Linked DNA regions of Homo sapiens: region 1 is linked to region 2. The links come from fine-mapping of genetic effects on gene expression. Tissue or cell type: monocytes. Region 2 holds a variant in brackets; the other region holds the start of a gene. All regions are shown on one strand. Distances are from middle to middle.

Region 1 (8,187 bases), 66 kb before region 2:
CAGACATATGGGAATATGGATCTACAAAGGTTCTTGCATTTATAATGAGGCTAGTACAATTTCCTAGAATTAGCAGTCTCCATCAGTATATTAAAACTAGATGCAGGAGGATGTAGGCTTTCACTCTGGCCTTGATATGAACTGGCTGGGGAATCTTGATGAAACCAGTTACCTTGTCTGAGTCTGTTTCCTCATCTATAAATTGAAAGAATAGAACCAGATAAACTCTGTGGTCCTTGTAACCTTTCCTGTACTATGAAATCTGCTATGTTATAGAAATAAAATCAAAACTAAACCACCATCGAAACCCAAATTCACACCTTCAAAGTCAAGCATCTAATAATTAACAGCATACCGAAGTTTACACACACGTTAAAAACAAGTAAATCTGGCATATGCCACAGCAAAATACAGGCCTCCATTATGAGGAGTACTGAGAAGCACATTCGCATCCTTCCTTTTCTGGTGCACCACAGGCTCTCCCTCCAGTGGAGACTTGTCGTTTCATCTACTTTCATTACATGTATTTCAATTGCAAAGAGGCTCTGATCAAGCAAAGCCCATCCTTACAAAATTGGAATCCACATGCAAACCAAATAGTTCTTTTTCCAGCTCACACCATGTCATGTGATTACATCAACACATAGCAAAAAACTGGGTATTATATTTTCCAAATTGTCAGATGATCCCAAACAAAAAAATCCAAACCCCTAAAATCAATGGCAGTCCCTTAAATATCACTGTGACAAGAACACTTAACAGTAATATACAGAATCATCCATCCTACTATACCATCCACAGTCCAACACAGGTTAGTTAACCTCTGTGCAATGAATTCCCAGCCCCTGGGACCAGATGTGTCAGGATAGAGAGACAGACAGAGGGAGGGGGAAGATAGTAACAGCAACAAAACATTTTCCTACGAAACTTGCACACATCTCTCCAAGTCTAACAGGTGCAACTACAGTCTAGACATCCCCTCACAGTTCTCTGACAAACAAGTTTCCCCATAACATATGTCCCCAGAGCTACTCCCCTGTAGACCGGAGATGGCCTTTTCTTCAAGAACTCAACTTTCACTTAGCAAATAAAACCAATCCCTAGCAAGCCTCCCTCACACAGAACCATCTTAGGCTGTTCCTGTGGAAAATCCAATTGGGAAAAAAAGACCTCCAAACCATCACCTCCTCCAAGTGCAGACCTCCTCCAGGCTGGCCATCACCATCCAAGGGTGATCCCTGGGAGCTGAGAAAAGGTACATGCTTTAGTCGAATCCAGCTTGCCAGTCTCCGCAGCCACCAGCAACCAGTCCCACGCTGGCCTCTCCCCTCCCAGAGACCACAGCACCTGTTAGGTGCTTTTTCTTTCCCACCTCCAAAGCAACGCTTGCCCTTTCCTTTTGAATAATGTCCAACTGCAGAATCCTACAGGGGTGGCTTGTTTTGACTGCTGCGGCGGCCCTTATTTTTGTTAATGTTGATTACAATTTCTGCTGTGCTCAAACCTGTAGCACTCATAAAACATGCTTACACACGCGGGGGACAATTGGCGATGCTCCCTGCTGGCTGGAGCCAGGCCTGGGAGGCTCTTTGGGGGATCGATTTTCCGGGCAGGCCGGTCTGGCTGTCCCCTAACACGTATCTGTTTCTATAAATACCCACTACCCACGGGGAGGTGGGGGAAGGACAGAGATGTTTACCGGGTCAGGGAAGGGAACTCTGGGATGCAAGGACGAAAAATGAGGAAAGAAGGAAAGCAGCAAGGAGGAAGTTCCTAGGAAGAGGAGGTCATGGGTGGGCGAGCTCTGGAGGGGAAGTAAGGGGCCCACGCCACGAATCTTCCTTTGTGGCTGCAGCTTTGGGCTCGCCCAACTTAACCAGGGCGGCGTCGACGAGAGACCATCGGCCCGAGGCGTGGGGCTGCTTGTATCTCGACCCCTCTTCTCCCGGCGTCAGACCCCTCCAAGTCCGGGTGCTTCGGCCTGGGGCCCCTCCCGCCCCCACCGCCCGGGCCGCCCGCGGGCTGGGTCTCACCGTGTGGGCTGCGGCGGCAGCGTTGCTGGCCCGGAGAGGCGGCAGGGCGATGGGGGAGGGCGGGCCAGTCCCCACTCCGCTCCGGGTGGCCCCTGCACCGAGCCCCGGGGAAGCCTGAAGCTGACGAACGGCGCTGTCCCCACCTCGGCCTGGAAGCCACGTGCGGGAGGAGACAAAAGAGGGTCAGGGGGGAGAAAGTCACCCAGACCCCCCCTCCAACCCCGCTGGGCAGCGACAACCCTCTTCCAAAGAAAGACGGAGGAAGAGACCGGGGCAGTAAAAACGGGCGTTCGGGTCACGGCTCCCCAGCGCACACCCACGGGCGGGGCGCGGGCAGCTGCAAAGTTAAGTGGGGCCCTGGCGCGCGAGTTCGCGACCCGGCGGGGGAGCCGGGCCGCGCCGGGGCTAGGCGGCCCACGTTGCAGACGGCCAGCAGCCGGGAGGTGGGTTTGGACAGCTGAGCAGGGAGCCACGGCCACGCCAAGCCCCGGGCAGCGCAGGGCGGGGCGGCAGGCCTGGACGGTCCCCGCCCGGGCCCCCGGCAGGCAGAAGCCTCTTCGGGCCGAGGGCTCCCCGCGGAGGGGCCTTCGGGGCCGCGCACAACCCTGCATGGAGCCCGGGGCGCGTCGTCCGCCCGGGGGCTCCCCCGCGCCGCGCCGCCGACTTTGTTCGAGGTCCCGCAGGCAGCGGCCGCCCGCGCCACAGGGGCTGCCCAGGGCCGGCGGGGGTCCGGGGATGCGGCGCGGCGGCACGGCCTCCTTACCGGTCGGGTAGGCGGCGGGAGCGGCGGCCGAAGGTTTCCTGGTTAACATGGCCGCTGGAGAGGAAAATGCATTTCAGGGCTGCCGTCGCCGCCGCCGGTCCTGCTGCTACTTCTGGCGGCCGCCGCCGCCGCCTCCCGGCCGCCCCTCGCGCGGGTCCCCGGCGCCTCGTCGCCGCCTCGCGTCTGCTACAGCCAGACACACACAGTCCACTGCATCCCCTCGGCCGGGGCCCGCCGCCGCGAGCCCCCCGCTCTCCTCCTCGCCGCCGTCCTCCTCTTCCTCGGGCGGCTGCAGCACCCTCCGGCCCGTGCACATGCCTCGCCCTCCCCTGCGCGCCGCGGGCCTCCCCGTCTCCCTCACATAGGGGCGCGGGGAGCTGGAAGCGCTGCGAGGACCGAAGACCGCCTGGCTCGGGAGCCTCTCCCGGGCCCGCGCGCGCGCGCCCCCGCGCACTCACACACAGGCGCCGGCGCGCGGCCCCGCCCCCGCCGCCCTCCGCCGCCCTCCTCCGCCGCCGCAGGCCCCGCCCCCGGCTCCCCCGGCCGCGGCCACGCACACCCCACCCCCACCCAACCTCCCGCCCGGCTCCTCTCAGTCCCCCGGTTTGCGCGCAGCCGCCCCTCCGCTCCCCGGAAAACTCGGCGGCCTCCGCTCGCCCTCCTCCGCCCCCTCCGGCCATCTGCACTGCTTCCCTCGGCTCCACTCCGGCGACCTTTTCCCCTCCCCGGCCCCGCGGCGCCCCTTCTCTGCCCTACAGCTCAACCTACCGCTGCTGCCCTCCGGCCGAAAGCGCCGCAGAGACCCCTCCCCTGCCATGCGCACCCCTAAACATAAATGCATTTTCAGCTCTTCGAACTGAATGGCTGCTCACAGACAGTACTGCTTCCCCGTCCCCCCATTCTTGGTCCCAGCGACTTAGCCACTCCCCTCTCCCCAATTCATCATGTAGATAACTTAGTTGTGCGAGGGTCACCTCGGAGAGGCAAGTCCCGGGAGGGGCGGCCGCTGAGCTCGTTGACCCTGAGCAGGGGCGAAAGAGGGGGCTGCCCTCCCACCTCCACCACACACCCTCCCCGGTTTACTGACACCAAGTGACCGCTCGCCAGTCGCTAGGACAAGGGGAGGCAGAGAGGCGCGTGTGGACGGCAGCTGGGGAAGCAGTTGGCTGTGGGTTGCTAGGCAAAAATAAACATCAGAGACATCTCCTATTTCCTTACAACTCCGAGCCTTTCCCCTGCGCGGCCACTGGGAGAGACACACCTTCCTTTCAGCTCTGCGGTGAGGGAGCGACACCTCGAATTCCTCTCACCCCACCCGACACATCTCTTTCCCCCTTCCCTTCCAAGACACGTGGAGAATTTCCCTGCCTTTTTTATTCGCCATATACAACCTCTCTTTTCCTTGAAGACCAAAAAAAAATTGCTTTCCCGTCTCACATCCGCGCCTCGTCGTGCGTGGCACACAGTGCGCCTCTGTTCAAAGGTCACAGGTTTTGCCACTTCAACTGTGAGAGGAGGTGGGGTGGGAAAGCCCGACAAATCCCGGATGACGGGGCAGAGTTATGCCATGCACTTCCTTCTCGAGAGGTGCCTAGTTTCTGAAGTTCTCTTGGGGCCAGGGGTCCATTATGCTCTGCCCCGCCCGAGTATCTCTGGCTCCTGGCTGGACCTACTGTGCAGGCCCGAACTAGTGCAGACTCCAGTCGGAAGGGAGCCACCTCCTGCGGAGTTTCATCCACTCTACTGTTTGCAAATTGTCATAGCAACCTCCTACAGAGCGCATCCGCAGCTTTATACAAACGCCAAAAACTGTTTCAAGGTACAGTGTGACCCTCTCAGAGTCTCTGGGACTCCTAAAGAGGCCTCCAAGTTAGGGTCACTGGGAGAGGGAACCTGTGACAAAAAGAATTTTCCCTAGTATTACGTCCCTCCAAACAAAACAAAACAAAACAAAACAAAACAAAACACCCTTTCGGGGCCTTCTCCTAATAAAGTAGACCCACAGTAAAATAATCCAATAATATGCCTTTAGAGGAATCATGACCTGAACTGACCCTAGCAAGAAATATCCCCCTATGCTTGTCACTGGCGACCATCACATTTAAATCCACATGCGGAAGCATATTTAGTGTTTAGAATCGACTAAAAGAAAAGGGCTACTAAGTAGCAGAGATGACACTAGAACCGGTTTTCTGACTCCCAGTCTGATTTCACTATGACTTCCATCACACTACTTTCCTTACACTTTCAAGAAAGCTCACACCTCTTTTTTCTCCTTTCAAAACAATTATTTTCATACCATTTTCCTTTTTAAAATGAGTACTCCATACAACTGATGTTCAAATAAAAAAATGAAACAAAAAAATCAATTTTAATATAATATGACACCCCTTTTTGCTTAAGTTATTCGTACAATACTTCAGTAGAAGCTAAATATGCCACTGTTTTCTCATGAATAAAATAAATGCTAGTTACTGGAAGCCATAGTTTACGATTTCCAAATTAGTAATATTAATTTACTCATTTAACATGAGGAAAAGGAGCACTGATTCTTTTTTTTTTTTTTTTTTGACAAAGGATCACAATCATTAACTTTAAGAAAGAAAAAGACAATAGGGAACTTTTTGTAGTATATTGTTTTATATCATGACAAATATAATTTCAATTTTGTATATTTTTTGTGGCTTAACATAAGGAAATATTGCAGTTGACCTACCCCATAGCTATTTTGATTATAAATGGTACATCTTTGAAAATTATATTAATTTTTACTGACCTCTAAGTGACTATTAACCATTGCTTAGATTTTCCTCATTCTGTTAAATATTCTATTAAATATTGACATCTCCCTGAGTGAATGTTAAATAGAAAAGCTGTACAAACACACTCCTGGGGCTTTGGGGAGAGTGAAGTGGGTAAATTTGGGGAGTTATTTCCCTCAAATTTTATTATCATAATGCATCATTATCAATTATCTCATATAATTACACATATTTTGATCTCTTTATAAAACACTTTCACAAATATTACCATGTTTAATCTTCATAACTCCACCAGAGCAGATTTCATTTTAAATAGGAACCTCCTTAAAAGCTTCATTCAGTTAGCAAGAGACTGCTCTTTGGTTTTCACCCATTGTAAAAACTCTGTGTGTTCTATATGTTTAAAATCCAGATTCAGATAACAAGGAGGTAGGCAGGATCTAGCAGGAGTAGAGAGAAACAGGAGAACTCAGAATAGAGCCTTGAGGAAGAAAGTTGATTTTTCACTGGGCAAAGTACTGATCACAAGGAAAATTGGAAATGAACATAAAAATTGCTGGTTTCAAAACACATTTACTCATTTAATCCCCTTATCCCAGAAACATTTACAAAGAATTTAGTATGTGCTAGGCCTAGGAGACATGATGAATCATCAAATGCAGTAGACTACACTTCAGTCTGGCAATCTATTAGGAACTCATTCTTGTTTTGTTTTGTTTTTGTTTTTTTGAGACAGAATTTCACTGTGTTGCCCAGGCTGGAGTGCAGTGGCACAATCTCAGCTCACTGCAACCTCTGCCTCATGGTTCAAGTGGTTCTCCTGCCTTAGCCTCCCGAGTAGCTGGGACTACAGGTGCCCACCAACACGCCTAGCTAATTTTTGTATTTTTTGTAGAGACGGGGTTTCACCACGTTGGCCAGGCTGGTCTCCAACTCCTGACCTCAAGTGATCCACCTGCCTCGGCCTCCCAAAGTGCTAGGATTACAGGCGTGAGTCACCACACCTGTCCAGGAACTCATTCTTTTATTCAATTAAGCAATAAGCTATAAGAACCTAACATATTTTTGGCACCGTTGGTGGAATGTTATGGTCTGAATGTTTGTGTACGCCCCAAATTTATATTTTGAAATCCTAACCCACAATGTGATGGTATTAGGAGGTGGTTAGATCAAGTGACTGCAGAGAGTTAGTAGCCTTTTCCACCATGTGGGGACACAGAGAGCAGGCACCATTTATGAACAAGGAAACAGGCCCTCACCAGACACTAAATCTGCCAGCACCACGCTCTTGAACTTTCCAGCCTCCAGAACTGTGAGAAACAAATTTCTGTTTGTTACAGTTACCCAGGTTATAGTATTTTGTTATAGTAGCCCTAACAAACTAAGACATGGGGCTACACAGTTAAATAATCCCTGGCTCTGGTCACTGCTACTAGGAAGTTCACAGTTCCGTACGGGAGACCAGACATTTAATGAAGTGAAAAGAGTGGTAAAGAAGGCATATAGGAGTCACAGAGATAGCACACAGGAGAGAGGGACGAGCTCCACTTAAGTGGTGTCTGGCAGGGGCTGTGCTTCAGTGGAGGTTTTAAAGACGCGTGGGAATTTGCAAGTTAGGCGAGACAGGTTAGGACATTCCAAGTGGAAGAAATAGGATGTTCAGAAGCGTCAAGTTGTAAGAAAGCATGATGTGTCCCAGGGGAAGGGGAAGCAATTCAGAATAGAGGAAACTTGGGGTGCCAGGCAGAGGGGTGGTACTGCTATCTTCCTAGGGTTAGGTTTATGGATAGATCAAGTCAGGTTAAGAATTATCCTAAACTTGGCCAGGCATGATGGCTCATGCCTATAATCCCAGTGCTTTGAGAAGCTGAGGAGGGAGGACCAGGAGTTTGAGACTAGCCTGGACAACATAGCAAGACCCTGTCTCCACAAAAAAAGTAAAAATAAAGAAATATTCTAAACTTTATCTGCTATGGATATGTGAAAACAAGGTGCAGGGGCTTTTGGAGCAGCTAGATAAATTATTAAGGAACTGACTCATTTTGGTGAAGGTGGATCTAACTCCCTTTAAGAGAACACCAGGCCAGGTGCAGTGGCTCATGCCTGTAATCCCAGCACTTTGGGAGGCCGAGGCGGGTGGATCACTTGAGGTCAAGAGTTTGAGACCAGCCTGGCCAACATAGTGAAACCCTGTTGCTACTAAAAATTCAAAAAAATTAGCCAGGCATGGTGGCGGGCACCTGTAATCCCAGCTACTGGGAGGCTGAGGCAGGAGTATTGCTTGAACCCAGGAGGTGGAGGCTGCAGTGAGCCAAGATTGTGCCACTGCACTCCAGCCTGGGAGACAGAGTAAGACTCCATCTAAAAAAAAAAAAAAAAAAAAAAAAGAGAACACCACTAACTGGCGGTACCTTCTATGTCTCCATCACCAAGGTCCAGAACTACCTAGAAAAGAATATGAAGACCTTATGGCCTAAAGTCTACTAATGTAAACTTTTCAGAAGTAGGAGGCATGGCCGTCATAACCAAATGGCTACAAGGTATCTGAATTTGCCTCTGGAGTGTGGCTCTGTGGCCACTACTGGTGTGGAAATCAAGAGGAGATTTCTATACCGCTAGAAAGTTGGTG
Region 2 (8,187 bases):
AAGCCAAAGAAGCAAAGACTTCTTTGTCACAATTCTTAGACTTTCCACAGGGAAAGCCATGGGGAGAAGACAAGGTATCTTAGATAGTTTCTCTCTAACGAAACTGTGCATCACCTGGACCTAGATTGGACTCTGTGTCCACATTTGTACCTATGTTATTTTGCTGCATTTATGTCTCTCATCACATGTGGTGGTTTGTAAAATGTGATGCTTTGGATGGGTTTTTTCTTCTTCATTTCATGTGGTTTTCAAAAGGCCTGGAAATCCGTCTTCTTGTCAGAACCACTTATACTGTCTTTTGAGATCTTTTTGGTGTCAGGATTCAGAGCAGCCATTCACTCCCATTCCTTCAGTCTTGATATTCACAACAAACTCATTACATGGCTGAAATCTAAAACATTTATGTATAGAGGACACTATGCCTCTAATTATTGCAAATGAGGCTCCTTATCTATTTCATGATATCTCCTCAGAGAGGAAGTCTGTGAGGAGCTGTGATTTTTTTTTTTTTTTTTGCCAGCTCCTTTAAAACCTTCATGAAAGCTCTCTTCACGCTGCCTACCCAATGGCAAATGCATTTAATGTTCCCTGTTGCCTCTGCCCTGCTGCATTTGCCACATGAAGGCTGCTCAGCCTCGTCTCTTGGATCACAGCATGCTCCTGTGACCTGGGGGCCACGGCTAAGGCTCTAGGCGCCCGCAATTGGAGGCCTGTCAGCCACGAAATGATAAACAGCAAAGGATGCTTTTATTAACACCTCTCCACACTGACCAATGTGGTTTTCTTTCTTGCTCCTAAGCTCAATGGACTAAGACTCAGCGAAGTTTTAATTCAATAGTATTCTCCTTGCCAAATTTCCCTCAGGATTCTAGTTAACACTAACCCTGAACGAGAAACACCGTAAGGGAAGCACATCTCTCATTGTTAGGCTCACCATTAAATGTAATGACTGATTTCTTTAATCCGTGGGTATGTAAGTCTGTGTTTCTTTCATTGTCAATCTATAATTAATCACCTTATATAAAATAAGAAGTGAGAGAGAAATAAAAAGTCATAGAAATGAACTCATAATTAAGAGTACATTATACAGACTTTATTATTTCATGGTATAAGCCCCAAAGCATCCACACTACAGTGAAATTTTTCTGTTTTTAAAAGTCTGCTTGCTGTTCATAAGAATCTTCCTATAAACAAAAGATACTTAGATTTATTTAGGTAGATTTTTGTGCGGGGGGGCAGGGGGTCAAAGAATTACCCTATGTCCTATAAGAGTCCATCCCAAAAGTTCCCTATAAATAATGACTGTTTATTCCTTGAATTTGATCAGTCCACTCAGCATGTAGAATACAGTGAGAAAAAATAGTGTGTATGGACCATAGTAGGCTTGGAGACAGTGAAGACTTAGAATGATGACTGGTAACATCTCTACCATTGTTAGCATCCCGTGCAATTGCTCTCTACCCAATTGATTTCTATGCATGAATCTCAAAAGAAGATGCAGCTCCCTTTATAAGATAGCGTCTAATGTCTTCCTTTCTTTCCCAGTGGGAGCCAACAATTTCCTCTACAACTTTGGAAACAATAAGATTAGGCAGCCTAGAGTCTAAATTAATAGGAAAATAACACTAAAGTCTTTTCAATAGCCACCAAGTTTCAAAGAACAAGAACAAAATTCACCTGTAAAAAATGGCCAGCACCATGGACCACACCTAATATGGAATTATTAGACTTCATTTCAAAAGTCCTCTTTGTATCTCCCACTTGTGATAAATTAACAAATGGTATTGCTTGAATTAGCTATGCTTTGAGTTTTTCCTGCAAGCACAGAACATTTGGTGTTCTTTTTCTTTCTCCCATGTAGAAAATTTGGAAGCCTCCACCTGTTACCTTGAAAATAAAATCGGGTCATCCTTTTTTTTTTTTATAAAAATGTAAAAGGAACCAGGGTTGTTATTTTAAGGCAAAATATTTATGTTGCAATAGTTACATCAATATCAAATATATTTAACATGAAACTCCTAGAGAAATAAAGCACCTGCAAGGAACTCCCCCCAAACATGCTTCAGAAGAGCAATCTTGATTCAGAAAGATAATCTTTAGTAATCATATGAACTGCCACTAAGGGACTCCTCAGGCAGAGCCTTCCCTAATGAGCATAGCCAGGGAGCTCTGAGTGCTGCCGTCTCCTTACCCCCAAGCCACTGGGAAATGCATCAGCCCCTTGCTCCCACTGCATAAAGCAGGAAATAATACATTTCAAGAAGCTACGTCTTCATATTCAGATTCACATTACAGGGAGGTTAAAAGAAGAAACCTTGTTTGTGTTAGTTGCAGATGTATCCCAAGCACCTGAACAATGCCTGCAACATATACGATGTTCAATGAGTGAATGATGGCACAGAGACTAGGTAGGCTGCTGCCTGCCAAATGGAGGACTTTCAGGGTCATAGTAGAGCAGCACAGTCAAGGGGGATTTTCCTGAACCCTGATCTACCATTTCTAACTTCCTGAATTGTTTTTGACCTTTCCTTCTCTCCACTGAAGAAAAAATGTTAATTTTCTTGGGTGTAGGTCTATTGCTTATTCATAGGACATGTGTATAATTACCATACTATACTGTAATTGATTACTTATTTCCTCCAGAGCCAACCCATCCATTAGGCGTAGTAGTAAACACACACACAACACGCACACACACACAACAATCTTGAGGCTGCAGAAAATGTTTTAATATAAAGTATTAAAATAATCAACTTTATACTAACACAGTTGTAAAATAACAGTTTTAATATTTTTTAATGGAGTAAGGGGCCCATGAAGGCAAAAGTGCCTGGGACCCATGAGAATCATACTGCAGACCTGATCTTCATTAGGCAGTGAACAAACAATATTGGAGACGAATCTGGTTTGAATGCAGAAAGAGGAAGCAAAGAGAAAAGAGCTGATAAAAAGAAGTCATTTTTTTAGGTGTGGGCTAGCAGTGGGAGAGAAGAATGCCTTGGAGAAGGCTGGAGAAGTAGGAGGCTGAAACCAGGGAGGTGTGTAGGGGTATCTGGGGAACTTCTGGAAGAGGTGGGGTGTTGAGTCCATATTTGGCAAGGGAAGATGTATTTTCTGGCAGGCTGATGAATAATGGAATTTGAGAGCTAGAAGTGCTCTAAAGAGCTGTTGTATTCCAACTCCTTATTTTATGGGTGAGAAGGCTGAGTCTTATTAAATTATTGGGAAGATAGAATCTGATTCTAATGCCTTTTCCACTGCTCTGCCAACTCTTCCATTTGCCTGAATTGTATTTACAAGATGGGGTGAAACGAACAGCAAACTTCATTCACGTGTTTATTACATGTGTGTAATACACATATGTGTGAGCAATTCCACACATACCATAATGTTAGAGAGTCATTTTCAGGAATCTTAATAGATCTAGTAGATTACTTTCCAGTCACAGAATGGGACATTTTTATTTCTTATCCCTCTCAACTCTACTGCAACTCTGACTTGGAATCATTAGCATGTGCCTGGCCACCTCCCAAGTAAGAAGCCTGGACCTAGTAGCATAACTAAATTGGTCAGATAACTAAAAGGACAGGTAGCCAAGTCTGGCTAAAGTGAAACCAGAACCCACCAGAATTAGTGGGGCTGATTCTACTCTGATTCCAGAAAAGTCCTAGTTCTAGAGGGACTGTATGAGACTTTCTCTCATTCCCAGATGAGAGCCAGCAAACTGCATCTAAACTTCTGACCCATTCTTGAGTCGTTTGTTGAATGACTCAAATCATTCAACAAACATACCAAAGAGCTATCTCCACAAAATGCAGGTAATGATAAGTGGATGCAAGGGTGAATTATGATTGGACCCTGTCCTCAAGGAGTTTATAGTCTAATTGAAGGTCTAATGAAGGGGAGAGTGAAGAGCCCACAGGATGGTGGAAGCCACATAATCAGTGTTCATGATTACATGGCTCCATTCTGCCTCTAGGACATCCTTTTATGAGTAAATGCTTGGGAGGTTGTAGAATGAAATAAATTCTCCACATATGAGCCAGAGCTCAGGAAATTAAAGAGGAATGGAATCAAGGAAGGGAAAGGTCAGGAGGAGTAGTGGGAGAGGATATTGCAATCTGGGTTTTCAAAAGACATTTCAATTCAGATGAACTCATGGAAGGAATTAAATTTTAATCTTTAAAGCTTCATTGTGCAATTTCCTAAATGAAGGAGCAGTCTGATTGGTATATTTAGCATCCTCACAGAATAAACCTGCATGGGGGTTACACAACCTATCATAGGAACGAGGAGCTTCCATTTTCCATGTCTCTATGAGGTAGGGATTTGACCCTTATTGTCTCTAGTTTGAAAATATTAAGTCACTGTTTAATAAACTAGCTCCTACTCCAGATTCTTGAAAGGCAGCCCTGTTTCTGTTAGTTATTAAGGATGCAAAGCTCTACAAATCCTTTCCTCATCAAATTCACTCTTGTAATATAAACAGATTAATTTTCAAAATAATCAATTTCAGTATGTTGTTTCCACAGCTTCATGACCAATAGAAAAAGACTAACCTCTTTCCCTGATATTAGACAGTCAACCCACCCTCACAATCATGTTCCACTGCTCCACACACAGGTATACTATGCAATCTACACAGAACCTCACAGCCTGCCATGCACACACTCATGTCTACACCCGCTCATACTACTCAGGAACACCCACCGTTTCTCTACGCCTACTTATTCATTTATTATTTGGACAAATATTTATGGTGTACCTACTCAGTTTCAAAAACTTTAATAGGTTCTGGGGATTCAAAGGTGAACAAGATAAACATAGTCCCTCCTTCAGGAGCTTTAAGCTCTAGTTTTGATAAGTGCTACACAGAAGTACATTTATGATGACACGTAAAGGTGGCATGTTACCTAATCCAGTGGGTCATGGAAGCCTTCTCTGAGGGAATTACTTTTAATCTGAGATATAAAAAATTAAGAGGATTGATCCAAGCATTAGAGCATTCTATGAAGAAAGAACCACA[G/A]GTGTAGAGCCCTAAGGCACGTCCAGATCCTACCCACCCTGCAAGACTCAGCTCAGTTTTCAACTTCTCATCAAGTTTTTCCCAACCTCTGGAGTCTATGTTGAAGAACTGCTTACTCTTCTGAACTCACTGACACTCTGACTCTGTACCATTTTCTTAAGCTCTTAGTCACCATTGTTCTTATCACCATCCCACCTTTTATCTTTATCTTGCCTAGACTGTATCAGGACAGAACCATGCTCTGTGTCTTGCAATCTTCATGAACATCTAACTCCTAGTAAAAGTGTCTTACAATCTTCATGAACATCTAGCTCCTAGTAAAAGCTCAATAAATATAAATTAAATGCATGTATGCATGACTGAATGTATGAATGAATAAATGGTCTTGGTCAATTCAAGTTCCATGCATGGCCATTCAGTAAGTCTCAACAGAGGCATCACAGCAGTACAGAAGATATTGTATTCTTGATATTTTTAAAAGATTATTGGCCGTGCATCTCATTAAATAAACCATAACCCCCAAATCACCCCCCTGCCCCACCCCCCCAAAAAAACATGAGGATGGATGAGTGGTCAGAAAAAGCTGTCTCTATTCATGGTGCTGTGAGAAGATCCTTTTCTACCTAATAGTTGTTAGGTTATATAAATTGGTCTCAAGAAAATCTCTAACTAGAATGTGCTGGATTCTGTTGGATATGATATGTTCTTAGTGAAAGAGAAACCACCTTAACTATCTCCAGGCAGAAGAATCCTTCAATAGAAGCCTGCTGAAGGATGTGTGGATAGGCCTGTGGACTCTCATGATAGCTAACCTCTTCCACCAACCAAAATAGAGAATTGACACCACCCGCCAGTTTGCAGTAAATTCTCATCCTGCTCCTGGGCCTGCAAACATTTTCACTGCTATGGCTTCCTACCTCCTCCACCTTTGTTCCTCAACCTCCTTGGAACCAACCTGCCAACTTCAGGCCAGGTGGTATCATCTTTCCCTCAAGAAAATTTTAAAATGGAACACACTCAATTTCTGTTTCCTACATCAAAAACCACCTCAATGAGTTTTTAGTTGATACTTATATTTGAAAGCTGGATGTGGTTGGGAGAAAATGTAAACCACAGAGAGGCAGCTGACTCAGAGAGGGCACAGGAGAAACTAAATTATTAACACCTTAGTTCCTGTTCTCTGAATTTTCCCATCCTCTGGATTTTAGATGAAGTGCCAGAATGGGAAGCATTTTAGTGATAGGTTCTTTGCTGTGAGTGCCAAACCAGAAGATATCCAAGCAGGCCTGGAATGAAGAGAGGCCCAAGGATAAACAGGAGCTCAGTTCAGTTCAATGTGTATTTATGAGCTCCTGCTAAGTTGCATACTCTGCACTGGGCACTAGAAATACAAAAATAAATAAAATATTGTCCCTGATTTAAAGGAGCTTGTGATCCAGTAGGGGATTCAGACGTGTCAACATGTGATTATTGTGCAATGTGGTAAGTGCAGTGAGAAACAGGAAATATGAAAGAGGAAAACATCACCCATCTCAGGAAGGATAGAAAAGTAGGTTGGTCTAGAGGGTTGAAAATGATTCTGAAATGATCGTACTAACATCATAACGATAGGTCACACTGCCACATAGCAACATAAAAAGTCTACATAAAAAGAGATCATGTGTTTTGGGGAAATAATTACTTAATTTCTCACCCAGTGGATCAAATGAGGAATTCCATGGCCCAAATGAAGCCAGAGTAATATGAAATGTAATTATTTTAATCGCTCAAAATTGGCAATGCACACAGCTCTCTGCTTAGACCCTGAAATTTGACTAAAGCCTTTATGAATTGCTTATGGAAAGGTTTACCAACCTCAGCACTAATGACATTTTTGGACTAGATAAGTTTTGTTGTGTGAATGTCCTGTGTATTGTAGGATGTTTAGTCTTTACCCATTAATGCCAGTGGCATCCACCATCTCCCAATTGGGACCAACTAAAATGTCTCAAATTGCTAAATGTCTCTTGGGGGGTGAAATCAATGCTAGTTGAGAACCACAAGTGAGGAAGTTTGTAGAAATGAACCCAATCATGTCTATTTAGTTCAAGATAATCAGTTCCTATCTAAGGCTGTGTTTAATAACCCAAACCCAGGAACTTGCCATCATCATTGTAGTTAAGCCTTTTCTTAGACAATTTCTACTTGAGACAGTGATAGCTGTGGCAGAAATTTCTAATTTCCTCCATTATACATTCTACTTCTCTCAGTCAACCTGGAAAAAGAACTCTCGATTTTTAGCTGGCCATCCGGAATAGACATTTCCTGGTCTTGCTGATGAGCTATAAGCAGAATTGGTGTGCACAGTTTCTAGGAATTTCCTTAAAGGGAAGGAATGTGTTCTTCTTCTTCAATTTCTTCCTTTTTCCACTTGATGTAGATGTAATTGCTGGAGCTCCAGCAGCCATACTTGATTATGAGGTGACATTGGGAACTGAAGCCACGAATTTCAGTTCAACAGATAGAAAAGGCTGACACTGGGCAGGGCCTTACCAACCCTGAAATCCTGAATTGCTACCTCCAGACTATCACGTAAGATATTATTTTTTGTACTGTTATTGTCTCTGTTACTTTTAGCTGCACCCTGCACCTGACATTAATCAATACAATTGCCTAAAGTGGACATTTATTATATTTCCAAAAGTCTCTGGACCACAATCTTCAACACATTAGGAAGCTTGGTCAGCTGTTCTACTAGAACCTTTACAGAAAACCCCATCCTCTTCTCTTCTCTTTTCTTCTCTTACAGTACACAGCACAGGATATTGGTTATTTCAACAATAACCCTCCTACCACCTCTCACTCTGCTACTCTGGCCAGTCAGTTACACTAGATAGACTGTTACCACCGCTTACTAAAAGTTGACATCTCCTTGAACCCATCAGACACAAAAATGAAATGAGAATACCTATTACTTGCAGAGTTGCAAGAAAAAGTATACTCTCCACTATTTCTGGTAGAAATGTGACATGTTGCTGTCTTTTTAAGAGCAATTTAATAATAGCAACAGAATTGAAAAATATACCATTCCTCCCAACTATCAACTTCCAAGAAGTAAAATCAATACTAATGAAAGATATATGTGTAGGGTTATTTATTGCATTTTTCCACAGACAGGGAAT

The links. PIP is the estimated chance that this variant, and not a neighbour inherited with it, causes the effect.
Region 1: DYRK2 starts here. The variant in region 2 is fine-mapped to the expression of DYRK2 in monocytes (TOPMed, PIP above 0.99).

What each region holds. Positions count from the first base shown.
Region 1 is chr12:67,643,792-67,651,978 of GRCh38, reverse strand. It overlaps DYRK2 (dual specificity tyrosine phosphorylation regulated kinase 2), which reads right to left and starts at 3,234. Exons shown (of 3, transcript NM_006482.3): 1 at 2,797-3,234; 2 at 2,034-2,182. The coding sequence starts at 2,845. RefSeq lists an enhancer at 712-761 and silencers at 1,842-2,231, 2,392-3,051, 3,062-3,361, 3,462-3,571.
Region 2 is chr12:67,577,461-67,585,647 of GRCh38, reverse strand. All of the region lies in intron 2 of LINC02442 (long intergenic non-protein coding RNA 2442), which reads left to right. Among named protein-coding and RNA genes, the nearest start is that of LINC02442, 8.4 kb to the left of the region's middle. The variant G/A (reference allele first, on the strand shown) is at 5,027.